2 linked regions of the Homo sapiens genome follow. The protein of the gene in region 1 purifies or fractionates together with the protein of each later gene. This does not show direct contact. Each region holds a gene or a part of one and is shown on either strand. Other genes may lie near its edges.

Region 1 (3,833 bases):
TGGATCCCAGTTTAAAACATGTTTGTAATTATATAAATATGTATACAAAAATTAATGTATATAATTATATAATTAATGTATATAAAAATATGTATAAAATATGTATAAAAATATAATAGACAACTGGAAATTTGAACAGACTAGGTATTTGATGATATTAAGAAATTTTTAAGTGTGATAATAGTGTTATGGTTATACATTTTTTAAGTCCTTTAAAATATACTGTTCAGGGCCAGGAGCGGTGGCTCACGCCTGTAATGCCAGCACTTTGGGAGGCTGAGGCGGGCAGATCACGAGGTCCAAAGTTCGAGACCAGTCTGTCCAACAGAGTGAAACCCCGTCTCTACTAAAAATACAAAAAATTAGCCGGGTGTGGTGATGTGCACCTTTACCCCAGCTACTTGGGAGGCTGAGGCAGGAGAATCACATGAACCCAGGAGGCGGAAGTTGCAGTGAGCCGAAATTGTGCCATTGCACTCCAGCCCAGGCAACAGTGCAAGACTCTGTCTCAAAAAAAACAACAAAAAAAATACTGTTCAGGCCGGCGCAGTGGCTCACACCTGTAATCCCAGCACTTTGGGAGGCTGAGGCGGGCAGATCATGAGGTCAGGAGTCCAGCCTGGCCAATATGGTGAAACCCTGTCTCTACTAAGAAATACGAAAATTAGCTGGGCATTGTGGCGCATGACTGTAGTCCCAGCCACCTGGGAGGCTGAGGCAGGAGAATTGCTGGAACCCAGGAGGCAGAGGTTGCAGTGAGCCGAGACCGTGCCACTGCACTCCAGCCTGGGTGACAGAGCGACACTCCATCTCAAAAATAAAATAAAAAATAAAATATACTGTTCAGGCCAGGCACTGTGGCTCACACCTGTAATCCCAGCACTTTAAGAGGCCAAAGCAGACAGATTGCTTGAGCCCAGGAGTTCAAAACCAGCTTGGCCAACATGGTAAAAGCCCATCTCTACAAAAAATAGAAAAATCAGCTGGATTGGGCCAGGCATGGTGGCTCACGCCTGTAATCCCAGCACTTGGGGAGGCCAAGACGGGCGGATCACCTGAGGTCAAGAGTTCGAGACCAGCCTGACCAACGTGGAGAAACCCTGTCTCTACCAAAAATACAAAATTAGCCAGGCATGGTGGCGCATGCCTGTAATCCCAGCTACTCGGGAGGCCAAGACTGGGAACTGCTTGAACCCGGGAGTCGGAGGTTGCGGTGAGCTGAGATCACGCCACTGCACTCCAGCCTGGACAAGAGCAAAACTCCATCTCAAAAAAAAAAAAAAAAGATAAAAAAAATCAGCTGCAAGTGGTGCCACATGCCTGTAGTCCCAGCAGTACTTGGGAGGCTGGGGCAGGAGGATCATCTGAGCCCAGGGAGGTCCAGGCTGCAGTGAGCTGTGATCACACCACTGCACTCCAACCAAAAAAAAAAGATACAAACTGAAACATTTACAGATGAAATTACAGGATGTCTAAGATAAAAATCATATGGTGATGAAGGGGCATTAGATAAGGTATGAAGATACGGTTGAGGCAGAACCAGCCATGTGTTGAGGCTTGTTAGGGCTGGGTAATCAGTATACAAGGATTCATCATATATACTACTTCTGTGAACAAAATTATCTCTAATAAAAAAAAGTTTTCTAAAAAGACAAAACAAAAAATGTAAAAGGCTTTTCCTGGAATTCTCAGCAGTAAGGTTTTTTAATTACAGGTCAAACGATAAAGAGATCAGCTCCCTCTCTCAATGCACAATTTCTAAAAGCAGAAAAAGGTGTGAGTGCCAGGTGCCAAAAGCAAACAGAATTCATATCTGGGAGAGGAAGACCACGCTGACAAAATCTAACATCCAGTTAAAGGTTTCTTAAAATTCCCAGAAAGATTCCTCAAATATTCAACCACTTCTGCAATTTATAAGGGCTACGTGCCCTTAGTAACCTCTTAGCATCTGCTCAAATATTGAAGAATCCGGACCCCACCACAGTGTTTGGCAAACAGAATATACCCAAATCACAGGGTACTGAGAACTGAGACACAGAATCAGAAAAGCCATTTCTGAGACCAGCATGGAAACAATGCTGACTACTTCCTGCATCTCCTGGTTCTATTCTAGAACTACATTAGAAACACACTACTTGCTGGAGAGCCCCATAGCTAGATATCCTCAATTTAAGCAACATTCTCTGTCATTACCATAAAATTTACAAACAAAACTAATGGTCTTGTACCTTAAGAAAGCCATCACTTAAAAGTCACTGTACCAATTATACCTCAAGTTTTAAATGCTAGTAGTTTAATGTTTGAGAAATCCCCCCTTTTTTCTAAATTTGGACAAATATTATTTAAATATAATAACAAAAGGAACAACAAAATACTTTGTACATCTTGGGGTATGGCTAGCTTTTGACATCTGAAGATGGAAATGGTTATACACTATGGGAAGATAGCAATATTTGGCTTTAATGCTAAAGATACAATGAAGCTGTAACAGTAAATACTAGTGAGCCAGTAAAACATACTGAAGATACACACAGCTCTCCACTCCTAACCAGGGCTAATTAAACCAAGGGACTGATCAGCATTTAATAGCATATCTCTAAGAAATTTTAAATATTCAGTCAGCTATAGCATAAAAACGTCCCCAAGCATAGCAATGATCAGAAAATATAATCACAGCTAACAACTCGAAGGTATTAAGTATTACTCACACATCCACACCAGTAGAATGCAAAGGACTGTGCCAGTTGACTGGAAGAAATTCTACCCTCCCAATCTGCTGATTTTCTTGGGCTTTCTTAAAATGTGTCTGTAGCAAGTTCAAGGAAACACTGCGAAAATCATTAACTGGAAAAGAAAATTAACTTATGCATCAACAATGAAGTAACAAATCTGTAGAATCTGGATGCAACAAATCATGTAATTATACTCTAACTACATTTGCACAGAACACATACTGACTTCCGTCAAAAATAAAGTGGTATTCAGGAAAAATTATGAATGCATATAGGAAAAGATGTTTCTTTAATAACTTTTTTTTTTTGAGATGGAGTACTGCTCTGTAACCCAAGCTGGGGTGCAGTGGCGAGATCTCACCTCACTGCAGCCTCCACCTCACTGGTTTAAGCAATTCTCCTGCCTCAGCCTCTTGAGGATCTGGGATTACAGGCACATACCACCATGCCCAGCTAATTTTTGTATTTTTAGTACAGATGGGGTTTTGTCCTGTTGGCCAGGCTGGTCCTGAACTCCTGACTTTAGGTGATCTGCCTGCCTTGGCCCCCCAAAGTGCTGGGATTACAGGTGTGAGCCACCGTGCCTGGCCTAACAACTTGCTTTTACCATACAAAATATTTCATCAAAAGAAGGCTAACTTCAGGCCAGGAGCAGTGGCTCATGCCTGTAATCCCAGCACTTTGGGGGGCCAAGGCAGGTGGATTTTATGAGGCCAGGAGTTCAAGACCAGCCTGGCCAACATGGCGAAACCCCATCTACTAAAAATACAAAAATTAGCCAGGCATGGTGGTGTGCGCCTGTAATCCCAGCTACTCAGGAGGCTGAGGCAGGATAATCACTTGAACCCGGGAGGCAGAAGTTGCAGTGAGCTGAGTTTACACCACTACACTCCAGCCTGGGCAACAGAGCAAAGCTCTTGTCTCAGGAAAGAAAATAATATATTTAAAAACAAAAAAAAAGGAAAAGGAAAAAAAAAGAAAGCTAAACTTCAAAACGTCGGCATCATGAGAACTGTTTCATTTTTTTTTTAATCACATGACAATATAACAACAGTCTTGCAGTTGAATTCCTACCCTAACTTTCTGGTTCTTATAAACAAG
Region 2 (2,749 bases), on another chromosome or scaffold:
AAGTGCCTCTGGTTTTTGTCGTTTTCATCAGCCTCCTTTTCTGCTTCCTTTATTATTTACCTTGACTTAAAGCTTCAGACAAGCTAGGACAGATTCAGGCAAAAGTGAGGCTAGGGCTGAAATGGGGCCACAGCTGAGTTCCTTTTGTGTAGCTTAAGTGCTATGACAAACAGGCAAACCAGAATCAAGGTACAGGAGGTTTGTAGGTAGTCCTGATTGATGAATTCATTCTCATCACATCTTTCTTTCACACCCACTTGATGTGGATACCAAAGACTTATTAGGAATACAAAAACCACATTTTACCATTTGTATTAAACACAGAAACGAGCTCGATTTTTTAAAAACAGATTTATCCATTTTTTCAATATCCCTGAGCTGAACATTAACAAATGACATGAGTGAACTCTCATATACAATATTATACATTATTTGTCATTTTTCTAATTAAGCACAGGGGAGTTTATAGTTCTGATGTCTTTGACATTTTCCCTGGAACATACCAAACCCTAGAAATGTTTCCAAGAACACCTGGAATTTGGTTACTCCACTGCCATGTGACCGACCACATTCATGCTGGAATGGAAACCACTTACACCGTTCTACAAAATGAAGGTGAATATCCAGGTAGTAATTCTAGAAGCCATATATAAAAGATATAACTAAAGGAACTACTTTGCCTAAATACTTCCCCCAATATGATGCATCAATATGAAGCATTTGTGAATCTGCTGCCCTGATTTCTTCCTTCTCTACCTCCAAACAGGATTTTTTTCCTGCTAAATGGTGAGGGATACTGCTCATTTCCTGACAGCCAGTACTTGTAACAGCACCAGTCATTTCTAAGTTAATACAAATGTGTAATTATACTTAAAGCTGATATAAGGGAGTAGTCATGTTATTTACCAAGAAACAAACCATTATTTACATAAGACACATTTAGAATCTAATTTCTTTCTTAACAAAAAACAATTTTTTTTCTAGGTGGCACCTCCATGTAAGAGAAGCCCAAGACAACCCCAAATAATATAATTTCAAATAGGCAGTGTCTTTTCTGTGCTTCCAAGGGGAAGGAGGAACCTTACCGATAATTGTTTGTGAAAGATCCAGGGAAGAAACAAAATTTAAATGCACTGCTCCCCAACCCCTGCAATAACCCTCCCCATGTGTAGGTACACACACACACACACACACACACACTTAAAATGGAGAAAAATGAACAGTTTTTTTGGTAAGATTCCTGCACTGTGGCTGCAGGCTTTGGTCTTTCCTGGGTCTTTCGAGTTGAGGATTGTTGTAATTAGAAATGGTAAATTCAAAGGGAGGAAATTATGTAAAGAAAACCAATCTATGTCTTTCCTCCCTAAAATGGGGAAAAAGGGAACATACAAATGAAGAAAATATAAATGTAAATATATTTGAAGATTTAAAAAGCCCTGAAAGGTTAACCTTTAGTGCAAATGGAAAGTTTTAATTTCTGCTCCTGGGTCTTACACAAACAACTTACATCATGAAAAACTATTTCCATTAATGCCCTTTTTATTAGAGCAGTCACTGATAACACTAGAATATCAAAGACTCTAACAGACAAGCCACTAAATTTAACGCCAATAACTTGAACAAAGTGAAGAGAGCCAAATATGAGAAAGAAAACTTTAGTCTTTAAATAACACTTGCAACCATGTGGTTACATGTGGTTGCATGTAAACCACACAAAAGGATGGTCTTGCTCAAAAAAATAATGGTGAGTAAGTAACATGGAGGCATTTGGGGAATTCATGTGTGCAAATGCCTGGCATGCAGAGTATGGCACTACAGGGTAACCCTACACACACAGCCACAGAGAAGATTCCTCCTGTGTAACAACCGTGAAAGAAGAGGGAGATTACTGCTTGGTTAAGAAAGGCGAGATAGTTTTTAAAGCTATAGTAAAAATTACAGAACAAATAGCAAATATGAAGTAAAAATCAACACTAGATAAAAAATTAAAGAGAAATTTGACTTTTGCAAAGAGAAAAGGTATTGCATGAGACTGAAAGCAGCAGACTGAATAAAAAAAGATAGTTTGAACTATCTTTGGCCCATAAAATCAGTGGCCATGTTTATCAGTCTGAATCATCTTTAAATAAGTCCAATAAAGCTTTGAGCAAGTTTACATTAATTATGAGTCTTAGAAAAGCCTGCTTAGCTTTAAATTTCTTACAGGCAGGGACTATATATTCTGTATTTCTAGCTAAGTACCCAAATCCAATACAATAGTTTGCTTACTGAATGTATAACAACATATTAATTCAATGAAGAGAAACTTTTGAAACTTTTTTGACATAATTTCAGATTCCCATATACCTTTCACCCAGATTCCCCAAATATTAATGATGTGCGTAGCCACATTGGCTTTCTCATTCTTTTCCCTATCTCCCTCTCATGCTCACCCTCTATATGTACACACACAGACGTGTATAGATACACATACAACTATCTTTCCTAAAAACAAGAATATTCTTGTACATGACCACAATACAATGATCGAAATTAGAAAAGCAACAATGATTTAAAAACTAGAGATCTTCAAATTTCGCTAATAATCCTAATCATGTTCTTTACAGAAAAAGAAAATCCCGGATCATGTACTGCATTGTTGCCATGTCTTTTAAGTCTCCTTTACTCTGAATAATTCCTTAATAAAGGGCACTTTGTAGAATGTCCTTCAATTTGAGTTTGTCTAATGTTTCCTTATGATTAGATTTAG

What was found.
Region 2: the proteins of DDHD2 (region 1) and CP purify together in Homo sapiens (affinity purification with mass spectrometry; one large-scale study listed by BioGRID and IntAct). This does not show direct contact.

Annotation. Positions count from the first base shown.
Region 1 is NC_000008.11:38,241,261-38,245,093, reverse strand, and holds part of DDHD2 (triacylglycerol hydrolase DDHD2), read right to left. Parts: intron 2,845-3,833; coding exon 2,709-2,844; intron 1-2,708. UniProt on the Homo sapiens protein: Diacylglycerol (DAG) and triacylglycerol (TAG) lipase required for proper lipid homeostasis in the central nervous system. It cooperates with PNPLA2/ATGL in neuronal TAG catabolism and hydrolyzes sn-1,3 DAG downstream of PNPLA2/ATGL.
Region 2 is NC_000003.12:149,174,116-149,176,864, reverse strand, and holds part of CP (ceruloplasmin precursor), read left to right. Parts: intron 1-452; coding exon 453-615; coding exon of another isoform or gene 616-627; intron 628-984; coding exon of another isoform or gene 985-1,001; exon of another isoform or gene 1,002-2,749. UniProt on the Homo sapiens protein: Multifunctional blue, copper-binding (6-7 atoms per molecule) glycoprotein. It has ferroxidase activity oxidizing Fe(2+) to Fe(3+) without releasing radical oxygen species. It is involved in iron transport across the cell membrane.